Regions from separate parts of the Homo sapiens genome. Here region 1 is linked to region 2. The links come from fine-mapping of genetic effects on plasma protein levels. A gene starts in region 2. The other region holds a variant in brackets. All regions are shown on one strand. Distances are from middle to middle.

Evidence for each region. PIP is the chance, under the fine-mapping model, that this variant and not a neighbour inherited with it causes the effect. The UK Biobank Pharma Proteomics Project read protein levels with antibody pairs (Olink). The fine-mapping took linkage between variants from a reference panel, not from the people measured, so its PIPs are less certain.
Region 1: its variant is fine-mapped to the plasma level of the PDGFRB protein (UK Biobank, PIP above 0.99).

Annotation. Positions count from the first base shown.
Region 1 is chr5:150,124,498-150,129,757 of GRCh38, reverse strand. PDGFRB (platelet derived growth factor receptor beta) reads left to right here. Exons shown (of 23, transcript NM_002609.4): 10 at 1; 11 at 3,144-3,238; 12 at 4,181-4,313; 13 at 4,927-5,031. Among named protein-coding and RNA genes, the nearest start is that of PDGFRB, 29 kb to the left of the region's middle. RefSeq lists an enhancer at 1,467-1,968. The variant C/T (reference allele first, on the strand shown) is at 860.
Region 2 is chr5:150,152,502-150,161,890 of GRCh38, reverse strand. PDGFRB (platelet derived growth factor receptor beta) reads left to right here and starts at 6,046. Exons shown (of 23, transcript NM_002609.4): 1 at 6,046-6,494. RefSeq lists enhancers at 56-965, 1,752-1,821, 3,340-4,128, 8,286-8,805, 8,806-9,326.

The DNA.
Region 1 (5,260 bases), 30 kb after region 2:
TGTGAGTCCCCAGCCTCAGTGGCCCCTGACGATCCCAATCCCTACCTTAATCCTGCCTAATTGGTAATGTGCCCATGTACCCACAGCAGGCCAAAGGAGTTAGCATGCCCAGGGGCAAACAGGAGCATTGTGAAACCCTGTTGTGTACATGCATAGGAACACATTCTGGCAAACACAATATGGGTACACACGTGTACAAACACAAGTCTGTAAGCCATGGATATGAATATCCTTCAGTGTGGTGTACATATACTATATGTATGTCGTAAGCCATGTACATGAGCATGCCTGTTCCTTGAACATAGGTGCAAATCCTCTGTGTGTAGATATGTAAATCGTCTACTGAAGAATGCCCAATCTCCAGTCACTCCTGTAAAGCTAGAGTGTATGTGTATAAGCATACACCTGTGCACTATGCCTGTCCATGTATGTAAACCCACCACGTGTTTGTAAGCCATGTACATGAGCATGCCTAATTCCCAGACATCTGTTTAAACCCCACAGTGTATGTCTGTATGCATGTACCGGTGGGTACACAATTCCTGTACATGTGTACAAGCAATGCATGTACAATTCCTTTGCATGCATGCAAACTGGCATAGTGCATGTCTGTAAGCATATAATTGGAGCACACCTTTCTAGAAAAGTGTACAAGCATAATTCCCGTACACATGTGCCTGCTGTACAATGTACATCTGTTAGCAGGTACACATACACGTGTAATTTCTGTGCGTATGAACAATGCCTACCAGTGTCTTGATGCTTTTGTGTATCTAGCTGCCCGTCCTTATGCATACATGCACCTGTATGAGTGTGCTTCATTTATTCACCTTTCTTCTTCATTCGATAAATATGAGGA[C/T]CCAACTTCTCATTGAAGTATAAAGGTCAAAGGGCTCAGCCCTGCCTGGACCTCCTAGTACCCATAGTCCAGAGAGAGAAGGCAGACAAGGAACTTGGCAATTCCCTCCGGGATCACCACATTAGGGGCAAAGCCTGGAGGGAGAAGGGGTCCCATGCCCAGCTATGGGATTCAGGAAAGTATTCTAGAAAAGGAACCTTTAGGTGAAAACCTGAAAAATGACTAGAAGTTAGCCTGGTAAGGAATGGTGTCCCACTCAGAGGGAATGGCCTGTGTAAAAGCCCAGAGGCAAAATGAGTTCCTAGAAATGAAAAGAGTTCAACTCAATCTGGCTGGAGGATCGAGTGTGTGGATACTTAGGGGCTGGAAGGGTGGCAGATAAAGGGGAAGGAAGTGCTATGGGATGGAGCTACAGGGGTCGGCAGATCTAGAGCAGGCAGGGCTCCAAAGGCCATGTGAGGCATCTTGGTCTCTGTGTATGCAGGTCCCTGGGCATGTTCAGGCACGTGCCTGTCTAGAGCTGCCTCCTGTCCCCTGCCCTGTGGTGGATGGGTGGGCTTCTTTCATCCCCTCATTTCACCCATGCTCCCACACATGCATACACATTCTCTGAGCAAGTGGGTATCTGGGCAGACAGTGTGGACAGCCTGAGTGGAAGACCAGCTCTGAGCCAAGGCAGATGTGACACTTTTGTGTGACTAAAGCCTGAGCGGGAAGCTGAGCACCAGCACACAGGGCCTAGGATGGCTGCAAGAGGGCTCCTTCATGCCTCCAGCGATGGCTGCCTAGAAGATGCAGGCTTCCTTCCCAGGACCGAGATGTGTGATGAGCGGGAGGAGGGAGGAGAAGAGGGATGTTGGTCTGGGACCCTGAGGAGGAAGGCATGGCGAGGATAGGTAAGGGTAAGGGAGAATGGATAAGGGGTGAGAGACGAAGTTGGAGAGGGAAGCAGAGGTAGAGTCATGAAGCCTCTGCCTTATGTGCCATTTTAGGAGTTTGGCCTTTTTCCTTTACTGATAACATGGGGAAGCATCCAAAGTTTTTTTTTTTTTTTTTTTTTTTTTTAAGATGGAGTCTGGCTCTGTTGCCCAGGCTGGAGTGCAGTGGTGTGATCTCGGCTCACTGCAAGCTCTGCCTCCCGGGTTCAAACAATTCTCCTGCCTCAGCCTCCCAAATAGCTGGGATGACAGCAGTCCACCACCACGCCCAGCTATTTTTTGTATTTTTAGTAGAAATGGGATTTCACCATATTGGCCAGGCCGGTCTTGAACTCCTGACCTCGTGATCCGCCCACCTTGGCCTCCCAAAGTGCTGGGATTACAGGCATGAGCCACTGCACCCAGCCTCCATCCAAAGATTTTAAGCATAACAATGGCATTCACTTAGTAATTCAACAAATAGTACCAGCTACCTACCATGTGCCAGGTGTGGTTTTAGGGACTGAGGTTATAGCAATGGATGGGGAGGAGGAGGTGGGACAGGACTCCCTAGGGAGCAAAGAAGCATAGATTGGGGACAGAAGAGGAGGGAATGAGTTCCATAGGACCTCATGGGTGGCCAGCAGGGCAGGGCAGGGGAGAGGCAGGTCTGGCGGGGCTGGATGAGGAGAGTGGGAAGCTGTACAGCGAAGAGGCTGAGGCCTTGAGGGTGGAGGAGACTCGAGGCTTGTAAGGGCCAGTGTGAGCCCCACTTTGTTAACTACCGTCACCACTCCAACCCCAACTGGGCCCTTTGGGTGAAGTGGGGAGAAGTGGCCTCCGTGCTGAGGTCTGGATTCATCAGGCTGGGGGTCTCAGCCATTGCTCCCTCAGTGGCCACTCACTCAGTCCACCGGCCACTCGGTCAGGCATGGAGCTTGGAGTCTGACCGAGCTGTGGCAGCCCCAGCAAGGGTGTGGACTCAGAGGAGAGGTAAGCCACAACCCAGCCCTCAGGGGCTCCAGGGCTAATGGGAGGTCCAGGCAATGGACAGGAACTCAGAACAGGATTTGCACCCCGTCCAGAGCTCTGGCAGCAAGGCCAGACTGACTGGCAGGGCTGAAGGGACGTGGAGGCCAGCAGTGATCTGAGTGGGGGTAGTTACTGAGGGGATGGAGTATTTACAGGACAGTCTGAACGTGTGGCCTAGAGCGAGATGCTGAGGGTCTGACACTGCAGGCTGATGGGGAGGTGGGCGCTTCTATTCTGGACAGGATGTGTACGGAGGGATCTATGATGCCAAAGATGGGGTGAGGGGAGGGTAGCTGCCCAGTTTGCTCATGGCCTGCTCTCATCTCTGCCTCCAGCCTTGCCCTTTAAGGTGGTGGTGATCTCAGCCATCCTGGCCCTGGTGGTGCTCACCATCATCTCCCTTATCATCCTCATCATGCTTTGGCAGAAGGTAAGCCCCTCCCTGGCCCAGTGGGTGAAGACTGGCACATCATTATTTTGCATAAATTCCACCCCTCTGCCCTCCTTGAATGCTGCGTGATCTGGCCACATGCAGGGCTCAGCATGGAACTCAGGTGGGGACTTGTGACGCTGGCTGTCTCAGCTTCCTCCACCCCCAGCAGTCTGGGCCAACCTGAGCCTGGCCCGAGCTATCCAGGATTCCCTTCCCCTACTGTGTCATTAAGTCCCCGGGTCCTGCTGAGACACCATTCCTCTCATCCTAGCCATGGAGCATGGGACCTTTGAGGTGGACTGCATGGGCTCCAGGATTCTTCCAGGTCTCACCCATGGAGAACCTGTGATTCTACTGAAATGCATTCTGATCCTATTAGTCTGTAATTTCAGTGTTCTGCTTTGAGATTTTACCATTCTGTGATTCCAACATTTTAAGCTTCCTGAATCAGGATTACAGCACCTCATGATCCCATCTTTCTAAAATTCCAGTCCTGTGGTTCCAACACCTTAAGATGTCAACATTCTAAGCTTACATCTTTCTGACTTGCCCAGCACTGGGGAGGGCCATCCGCATCCAGCCGAGTACCCTACCTGGTGTCACTTTCTGGGGTCACCTGCTCTACTACTTCCATCTGAGGAGCAGCGAAGGCTGGGAGAGAAGCTAGAGAGGAGGTTCTCATGAGCCAGGCCCTCAGCTGCCAGTTGCTCCTCAGTCTGCCAAGTCCTGAAGCCTCCTCTGGGGCCCCTTGGTCCCTGTTCCCTCCGAGCCCACGAAGACCTTGGCTCAGTTGAGCACTTGCTGTGTGACTTCAAATATGCCCCTGCCCCTCTCTGGGCCTCAGGGTCTCCTGCCCCATGTGTCCTAGACGGACGAACCTAATGGGGCTCAGGGCCTGAGACTCCCTCTGATAACTAATTCCTGGGGTTGGTCCTCCAGAAGCCACGTTACGAGATCCGATGGAAGGTGATTGAGTCTGTGAGCTCTGACGGCCATGAGTACATCTACGTGGACCCCATGCAGCTGCCCTATGACTCCACGTGGGAGCTGCCGCGGGACCAGCTTGTGCTGGGTCAGTCCTGAGAGGCCTCATGTGGCAGTGTGGGGACTCAAGTTGGGTGGGAAGACTCTCTGAGGTCTGGTCCCAGCCTTGCCATGACTAGCTATGAGACCTAGGGCTGGTGTCTTGCCTTCTCTGGCCCTCCATCTCCTACTATGTACAATGAGAGCAAGACCATCCCCCAGGAACTGCCTAGCATTGAGGTTCTATGATCCTGTGACCCTGTGAGACGGGATCCCTATGTGGCAAAAGTGGAAGGATTGAGGACAGGCTGAGTAGCAGGCCTGGTCTGGCTGGGGAAGCTGAGGAGGTACAGAGAAGCGTGCTCCCTTGGGAGGGAAGAAACTTTCCAGAGATTAAAGATGGGGCAGAAAGCAGGCAGGACTTAGATGAGATACCAGGAAAGACAGGGAGGTATTGTGGTTGCAGGAGTGTGTTTAGGGAATATCCTGAGTCCAAGGTGGTTTAAGTAATGTCTAGGTTGACCTAAGAGAGTGGCTCTTTCCCCTCACTGGGCAGGAAGGGTGATAGCGGCCGGGGGTAGGGGAGTGGGGGGAGGGGGGCAGCTGGGGGAGCGGTGCAGCTTCCTGGTAGGCCAGGAGCTAATGGATCATCTCTGCACCAGGACGCACCCTCGGCTCTGGGGCCTTTGGGCAGGTGGTGGAGGCCACGGCTCATGGCCTGAGCCATTCTCAGGCCACGATGAAAGTGGCCGTCAAGATGCTTAAATGTGAGTAGTCCTTGGAGCCCTCCACATCTGGGCCTTCACCTCTCCCTGCCCCTCCCCACACACTTAGCCTCTCCCAGGGTGGCCTGATGCTGATTTGCAGGCACTAGAGGGGCCATCACACTGCAGCAGGCACTGCTCCCGAGTCTGGGTCTGGTTTGGGAAAGAGCGTTCCTCTCCCTGGCCTCCTCGGCCTGCTTCCCCCTACCCTGGCCTCTTCCCCTCCTCAGAG
Region 2 (9,389 bases):
GGGACTCCTGTGAGGCATCTTTGCCTTCCAGAGGCCTCTCTCCTCCCAACACCTTTCTTCTCCTCCTACCCCTCCAGGGGCTGGGGCCGCCACCTGCTGGCACTCCTGGGTACTGCTGGAGGACTCGCCGTACTGTTGCCTTGTCTCAGTAATGCCCGGATGCCACTGATTATCCTAGGGAAACAGAGGGGTAGGGAAGGGTGGCAGTCCCCAGGACACAGACACTTAGGTAGTAGAGGGGATGCTAGAACCAGAGGCCCAGGGCATAGATGTCCTTATCAGAGAAGCACTGTGTCTGACCCACCGTGCTGAGGAGGGTACAGAGGCCAGGGAAGGAAAAAGGCCATACTGTGAGTCAAGTGGCCAGGCACAGGCTGGGACACAGAAGCCCAAACTCCCTGTTGAGATGCATTCCTGCAGCCTCTCAGGTGGATAAAGAGTTGGGGGCAGCACGGAGTACGGGTGTGTGTGTGTGCAGTGTTCAGTCCATGATCGGCCACTGCAGCCTCCACACTCGTCCCATGCCTCCCTCCTGCCCCCTTTCGTCCATCCTCCACAGTGCACTTGGGTGACCTGGTCTCATCAGTCCCCTGTTTAAAATCCTGCAGTGGCCCCTACTGACCCTCAGGATAAAAGTCAGACTCCCTCGAGCCCACAAAGCCCTGATGCCTGGCCACTGACCACCTCTCCAATCTTCCATCCCACTGCCGGCTCTCTGCCTCAACCATTCTTTTCTCTTTGTTCGAACCCATCAAGATCTCTCTGGCCTCCAAGCTTTTGCAGATGCTTTTCCCCCTGCCTCGAACACTGTTCCTACTCCTGAATGTGTGTGGCCTCACAGGCCTGCTTCCTCCCCACAGAAGCCCTATTGTACCTGAACAAGAACTCCCATCCACCCAGCTCATTATTCTCTTTGTCTCTTTCATCACACTCATCACAATTTGATATTATTAATTTGTGGTTTCCTCGGTGTTTGCTTGTGAACTCTGTGAGGACAGGAGGACAGGGCACATAGTAGGTCCTCAATTAACTTCTATCGCATGGATGGATGGTTGGAGGAACAGTTATCTTAGTGATAACTGGGTGTTAGATGGAGAGGCCCCACCCTAGGCCTGCTGTGTGCCCTCAAAAAAGTTCTGGTGCTCTCCAGACCTTAGGAGCCAGTGTATTCAGTGAGGGTGAGGGCCCTGCTCTTCTGGGGATCTATGAGCCATCTGCGTGTACCAGATGGACACACTCAAGTTGCCCACGGTCCTGGGGCTGAGAGGGAGGCCAGCAAGGGGGCAAGGAGAGGCTGAATGGGCAGTGTCTTGAAGCCTTTATCTCCTGGGACCCTGGCAGACCTCGGTGGCTACAGTCTGGCTCAGTAAGACAGTCCTAAGAATCTAGGGAGGGAATGTGGCCCAAGGCCCCTGCTGGTCTTTTGCCCACTCAGAAAGCCACTACACTGAGTGTCCAGGAGGTAGGGGGACAGTTCCCACTCTGTGCCTCTCTGGCTCCCCAGCCACAGGCACAAGGATCTACGTGCTCTGCTCAGGGCATGCATGGGTGGAAGGACACTGAGCTGGGGATCAGGAGTCCTGTATTCTAGCTTCCCTCAGCCCCACCGTGAACCTCAGACAAGTCCCCTCCACTCTCTGGGCCTCAGTGTCCATGCCAGCAGAAGGGACATATCTTAGGGTCCTGACGTCTAAGATGACTGTGTGAGCGCCTGGGGTATGTGTGCTGCTTCCTCATCACCCCCCACCCCCACCCCACAACTCTGCCTGGGGAGCCTGGGAGTGGGGGCAGAGCCAGGAGCGTGGGAGAGCCAGATGTGGTGGCCGCTGCCCTGCCTGAGTGAGGGCTGAGCGGCCTCCTGGGAATTCTCCCACTCAGGCTCCCTTTCCGGTTCCCTCCCCCTGCCCCACTGAGAGCAGCAACTTCCGGCTCTGACAAGCGTGGGTGGGGGAGGGGGGTCTTAGCACGGGGGTCTGTTCAGCCTGGTTCCCTCCTCTGGGGAAGAGCATGGGCTTATGAGTCTAGACAGAAAGCCTCGGTTCCAGTCCCAGTCTGTGGCTGACACATCACAAGGCCTTGCACAAGTTCCTTTCCATCACTGGCCTCAGTCATACCGGCTGTGTAATGAGCATGTTGGTGAGCTTCCCTCCAGCCCTGATGGTGGACTTCTATGACAGCAGCTCTTGGTAACACCTGAGGATCAGTCACCTTTTTTTTTTTTTTTGAGATGGAGTTTCACTCTTGTTGCCCAGACTGGAGTGCAATGGCGCCATCTCAGCTCACCACAACGTCTGCCTCCCGGGTTCAAGCAATTCTCTGGCCTCAGCCTCCCGAGTAGCTGGGATTACAGGCATGCACCACCACACCCAGCTAATTTTGTATTTTTAGTGGAGACTGGGTTTCTCCATGTTGGCCAGGCTGGTCTCAAACTCCTGACCTCAGGTGATCCACCCACCTTGGCCTCCCAAAGTGCTGGGATTATAGACGTGAGCCACCGCGCCCAGCTGGATCAGTCACCTTTTGTGGCACTTTCTTGTTTTGCTCGAGGCTTGACAAAATGCCTGTGGGCATGGCTTATTCAGGTCTCTCCACAACCCTGTGAGGTAGGCACATGTGTCCCCATTTCACAGTTGAAGGTACTGAGGCTCAGAGAGCTCAGGTCATATCATCTCCCAGCGTCACATGGCTGGGAAGTGGTGGAGCTGGGTTGGAGCTGCCAACATCAGAGTCCAGACATTTAACTCTTGAGTGTGCCACCGTGCTGTGGGGGAAGGCAGTGTGGAACCCTAAGGCCCAGAGCCCCCCTCTCCCACTGTACCCCATCCCAGTCCACTTCAGGCAGGGCTCCCCACATTCCATGCTCTGCCCACCTACTCTCAGCCCAGGCTTCCCCAAGACAGCATTGTCCAAGGCTGGACTGGGTTCCCAGTATCTGTGTAGGTGTGAGGATGTTCATAGCTTGTCCTGTCCACAGTGGGGCTGGGGGCCATGCTGACCACCCCAGGGTGATGGTGCTGCACTGCCCATGTGCCCCGTCCATTGCCGCTGAAGGCAGAGTGCACAAGGGGAATCCAAGACCCAGAAAAGGGAGGCTCCGCCCAGGAAGACACAGTGATGGAATGCTGCTCGAATGAGGAAACTCACTATTTCAGTAATAGTGTACACTTAGTACACTTCGAGGCAATGTACTAAGTCCTTTGTACAAACCGAAGAGTCTTATGAATCAGTCTTTGACTTGTCTCCATTTTCCAGAGGAGGAAACCAAGGCCAGGAGTTTAAGTGACTTGCCTAAGCTCATGTAGCTTGAAACTGGAGCAGCTGGGATTCGAACCCAGCTCTATCTCTAGCTCTCCAACCTCCTCTGTCAATCATGACAATTTTGCCCCTTGGTGAGTGCCCTGGGTTGCTCCCTGTAGCTCTGCACCTCCCACCCATATCTCAGTTGAGAGGAGGAGTGACAGTCCTGGTGCCCACCAAGGGTTAATGGCAGTAGGGGCTAAGTAATTCCAGATGGGCCTCAGGACGGCTGGGCTGGCCGGAAACTGGAGGCCGCCAGCTTCCCAGGGGAGCCACCGCCAACTGCCCCTCCCCTTTGTGCTGCATCTCTGGCCCCAGCTGTACCCCTGCCCTAGGGCCCACCAGCCTCCTCTCCCTTGCTAGAGTCCAGCTCTAAGGGAAATTGCAGACGGACCATCCCAAGGGCCTTGTAGCACAGTGAGTCCACAACTGTTATGTACAAATAGGGAAACCGAGGCTCAGGCAGGGCAAGGGACTTATTCAAGTTCTCCTGATAAGTCTGTGGCTGGGTCTTCTGACTCCCAGACTAGCTTCTTTGGGGACTAGGGGGTTGGTGTGTCTCGTGGCCTCCCCCAGGCTGGCCTGGCTGCAGAGGGTCAGCCAAGGATTCAGAGGTGAATGGCCCAGGCAGATGCTAGGAGGGGAGTCGTAAATTTCTGACGGAATCTTTGGGCACAAGAAATCCCTGTGCAAGCCTGACCTTGTGGCCTGTGGGATCTTTTCACATTCCCCTATTTCCCTGTTGCCACAAAGACCTGGCCAGGCCCCCTCTCTCGGGGTACTCTTATGGTCCCCAACCCGTGGCTGGGAACCAGTCTGAGAACACTTCTCCTTCTATGTGGTCCAGCCCAGATGCTCTGCTGGGCAATCCCGATTGGGACTAGACCAAGAAATGCAAGATAGTTGACTGTGGTGGGCATGGAATCCCAGCTCACGCAAATCCTCTGCTCTGTGAACAGGGGTCTGGGGGAAGCTGAGGAGGAAAGACTTAGCGGCGCAGAGGGAAGGAGGGCAGAGCCAGCCTCTACCTGTGTCACCTGGGACAGCTTTCTTCACCCTCTGGAATTCAGTTGCCCTGTGGGTGCAGTAGTGGGAGCAGGGGTGGTAAGCCCACTCTATATGCCCTTCTAAAATAATGCCCTTTGCCATCTGAGGGCTAGGAGTCTGTAACTGGAGATGTCTTCTGATCTGAGAAGCTGAGGGTGGAAGAAGAGACCCAGCTGGGGGAACTGGAGGAGTCTTGGCAGACCCTGGTAGGAAAGGAGAGCCAGAGAATGGAAATGGAACAAAACGGATACTTGAAAGTATCTTGTTGAGGCTGGGTGCGGTGGCTCAAGCCTGTAATCCCAGCACTTTGGGAGGCTGAGGTGGGTGGATCATGAAGTCAGGGGTTTGAGACCAGCCTGGCCAACATAGTGAAACCCGGTCTCTACAAAAAATACAAAAATAGCCAGGTGTGGTGGTGTGCGCCTGTAATCCCAGCTACTTGGGAGTCTGAGGCAGGAGAGTCACTTGAACCTGGGAGGCGGAGGTTGCAGTGAGCCTAGACTGCGCCATTGCACTCCAGCCTGGGAGACAGAGCAAGACTCCATCTCAAAAAAAAAAAAAAAAAAAAAAAGAAAGTATCTTGTTGAGTGACTGAATGAAAGAGCCACAGGGGGAACCTAGGAAGAAAGCAGGGCAGGGGGTTCATCTACACTGGAATAGGGGTCTCGGGTGGGGGTCAGATGACTTGTGTCTCTTCCATCATGTGTCTCATGAGACCTAGTTCTGCCCCAGCTCTGCCATTGCTGCGTAAGCTTGGGAAGCTTATTTTGCTCCTCTGGGCCTCAGTGTCCCCATCTATAAAATGGGGCAAATAATCCTCTCCTTGCACCCCAGGGGCTTTGAGACGTGAAAAGGAATGTATCTGTCAATATCCAGAGATATCCAATCTGTGCTGGATGACCTTGACCAAATCACATTCCCTCTCTGTGCCAATTCACCCCTGGGCCTTGGTTTGTCCTTCTGAAAAACGGCTGATCATCTTGGAGGATCTTTCCATCTCCTCCATGTCACCTCTTCTCAGCAGTGCTCTCTGATTCTCTCAGGCTTCCGTTAGGGGTCCTTCTAAATGCACTCTCAGCCTCCTGTCTGCCGACCGGGCACCTGCTTGCCCAATGAATATCTTGCTCACTAGCCTGGTGCTTCTGAGGTCAGGACCACGTCTTGCTACTGTCCCCTGCACCCAGTACAGTGTTAGAATGTAGTAAATGCTCAGTATGCTTGTTCAATGAATGAAGGTTGACTGAATCAACCACAGAGATGATCAGAGTCTCCTTTACAGATGGGGAAACTGAGGCACTGAGAAATGATCTCCCTGGGTGCCATGGCAAGGGGAGGCCGCCACCCGACATGGGCATCGGGAAAGTGGGGCCGAGGCCACTCTTTGACAAAAGTGACTCAGCAGCTGGCGGCTGGCGTGGGCTGTGGAATTTCTAAGCATCCCCTCACATCCTGAGCGAACGGGCGATGGGAGGGAGTAAGCAGAGTGAAAAGAAGAAAAACAAGAAACTTGGGGGAAAAGAAAGAGAGAGGGGGAAAAAAACTGAAATTGAAAACAGACGCACGCGTCCACCCTCCCTGCCCCGCCGCCCCCCCTTCTCCCAGCTGGGCCAATCAGAAGCCACCCTGCAGCCTTTCCCCCAAAGTGGCGGGGGAAGTGGGGGGGCATGGAAGCCCATAGTGGTGTGAGCTCCTGAGGCTGCCAGCAGCCAGCAGTGACTGCCCGCCCTATCTGGGACCCAGGATCGCTCTGTGAGCAACTTGGAGCCAGAGAGGAGATCAACAAGGAGGAGGAGAGAGCCGGCCCCTCAGCCCTGCTGCCCAGCAGCAGCCTGTGCTCGCCCTGCCCAACGCAGACAGCCAGACCCAGGGCGGCCCCTCTGGCGGCTCTGCTCCTCCCGAAGGATGCTTGGGGAGTGAGGCGAAGCTGGGCCGCTCCTCTCCCCTACAGCAGCCCCCTTCCTCCATCCCTCTGTTCTCCTGAGCCTTCAGGAGCCTGCACCAGTCCTGCCTGTCCTTCTACTCAGCTGTTACCCACTCTGGGACCAGCAGTCTTTCTGATAACTGGGAGAGGGCAGTAAGGAGGACTTCCTGGAGGGGGTGACTGTCCAGAGCCTGGAACTGTGCCCACACCAGAAGCCATCAGCAGCAAGGTAAGTGCTGGAAAAAGTGGGAACCCCAGCCCCATGCCCTGTCCCTTTGCCCTAACCTGCATCTCTTCGAGTAGGTAAAAAAAAAAAAAAAAAAAAAAAGGGAAGATATTTTTAACAAAACAAGATGAGAGGAGGCTGGGAGACTGTGGGTGATGTCAGGGATGGAGGAGCCAGTTTTCTCCTTTCCCCTGCTCTGGGGTGAGTGGCCTCCACCTCATCATCCCTGCTGCTCCTGCCTTCATCAAACAATCCTCAGGGGTTTCTGGGTGCTGACTGGGGGCCTCCAAAGCACAGCACAGTCAATGGGGAGTGGGGAGAGCTGGGAAGAGCGGGAGAGGGGAATTGGGAGAAGGTAGGCAGGGTACACAGAAAGCAGGGGACTGGGGACCTCAGGACCATAGCCGCTGTTCCTTGGCCCAAGCCTTGTTTCTAAGAATCAGTCTGGCTTTAGGCCAGTCAGCCGCCAGGCAACCTCTGGGGATTTAAATGGATTTGCAAATTTTCTAGATTCTTAAGATATCCTTCTAAACCCCCAGCAGCTAGAAAAGTTTGAGGGCTAGGAAAGTTCGAGGGTGATGGGCGGCCATGGCAACCCCCTAGCGGTCATGCTGCTGGGTCTGGGGGCTGGGACCTGGCTGTCAGATCTGGGGGCTCCTCTGTGAAGAAGGGGTCAGCCACTGGGCCATTTCCTTTGGTCCCAGGCAGCTGCTCAGGCCTCCTCGTTGTCTCCCTCCTTCTGGACTCTACCCCTTCTCCATGCCATTCTAAAGCATAAATCCAATCACACCACCTCCCTGCCCAGGATCCGCCTATGGCTCCCCAGTGCCTGGAGAAAGTCCCAGCTCCTAACAGAGGCTGCCACTGCTTGACACTTACTGCACGCCGCAACTGTGCTGAGTGCTTTATGAGACTGATCTCATGTAATGCTCACCAGCAACCCCAGAGGCAGTGACTGTTTTTACCTCCGTTTTATACATGAGGAACTTGAGGCTCACGCAGCCACATAACTGTAGCCACACAGCTAGTAAGTGGCACAGCCTGGAGAGGTTGGAATCTCCCCGTGCCCCATTACTCCAAACTTGGGCCTTTTGTTCCCGCCAGTCAGATCCCAGAATTCCCAGAAGGAATGCGCACCATCCTGCTTGTGGGCATTTGCCCTCCCTCTTCCCCCTTTCTGGAATGCCCTTCCTCATCACTTTTCTTTCAGGGATATTCCATACACCACCTCTTCCAGGCAGCCTTCCTAGGTTCTTCCTGTCTTCCAAGTGCTAGCCATGCACTTTGTGCTGAAGCCATGTTACTTGGCCCTCCCCTGTTGGTGATCTGTTTATGTTCTGTTTGTTCATCAGAGATTGTTCAGGCCCCAGCAGTCAGAACTGAGGCCGCACTTTCTGCTGGGGAAAGGTTTAAGGTTTCCCCATCCTGTGCTCTTCCCCCAGTGCCCAGCCCTGGATAGGCAGTGCGGCTGAAAAAATGTCCTGGTGAAAGGGAGGAGGAGCTCACTGAAGACCTTCTGCTCCCAAGTGTGAGACTAGAACCCAGGCCTCCAGCCTTCTCACAGGTGCCCTTCCAGGACATCGTGTGGCTACTCCAGGCAGCATTCCTCCATTGCAAGCAGGGAGGAGTATCTCTGCTTCCCTCTGTGACCTCCCAATTGCACAGAGGCCTCTAGTGACAAGTTCTGAAGTCATGCAGTCCTCCCCTGTCTCCAAGCAGGAGACCCTGAATCCACAGCCTTCAGGGACATACAGTCCCTGAACACCTACCTCATGCAGGCATAGAGCCTGGTACTTCACACACCTTGGAGTCCTCATGGCAAGTTTTTGAAATCAGTGTTATTACCTACTTTTTGTAGATGAGGAAGCTGAGATCTGGAGAGGCTAAGTGACTTTCCCAGGGCCATACGGTGAGTTAAGGTGGTGTTTAGGCTGAAGTCTGCCTGACTCTAAAGGCTTACCTCGTGCTCCCCGGGAAGCTCCCAGTCAGAGGGAAGAATCTCCATCCTCCTGCAGAGCCTGCTCCTGGCTTCAGCACCTTCCCCAGCAGAAAGTGCAGCCTCAGGTCTGACTGCTCCAAGGTCTGCCCGGGCCCTGGCTTGGTCTTGAGAGAGGAAAGAGACCATCTGGTCAGCACCCTCCTCCCAGACAGCAGTTATCAGCAGCCCCCCTCCTCTGCGGGAAGAAGAGCTGGGACTTATAATTGCCCACACATGTGGGGCAGGCAGTGGAAAGCACCGTGGATCCAGAGTCAGGAGACCCAGTGCTTGCCCTGGCTTGATTTAAATCCACCGTGTGGCCAACCTCAGACCCCCCACATCCCATCTCTGGGCTCCTTCCGCAGCTGGGAGGCAGTGAGCGCTGTGGGTAACCAGCACCAGGCTTGGGCATCAGATGACTATGCATTGACCCCGAGTCAGTTTCTGGCTGACTGTGTGACCCCGGGGCAGCACCTTGCCTCTCTGGGCCTCAATCTCCTTCTCTGTGAGCAGCAGGACCGTGTGTGGGCTCCATGAGACAACAGCATTGGCAAGGTGCTTACCACAGTTCCTGCACTTCACAGCTGGACCTCTGGCCACTGGCTGAGAGAACCACTGCTCTCCTGGCCTCCTGCATTGGAACACTTGGCTGTGAAATTAATCTGCAACCTGCAAAAGGCTCTGCCCACAGAAGGGACCTGGACACCATGTATGTTCCAAAGATCCGTGTCCATCCTCCAGGCACAGGCCACAGTCTGACTCTGAGACCAGCTGCCTTCTAGGCTAAAGGAGGGTGCTCTGGGCATTGGCTCAGAACAGGCTGCTGCTGAATGCAGTGGGAAGGGAGAAAGGGATGAAAAGGTCTTCTGAAATGCCCACCCATTTCTTGCATTTGATTCAGAACCCAGTGGGCAGTGGGT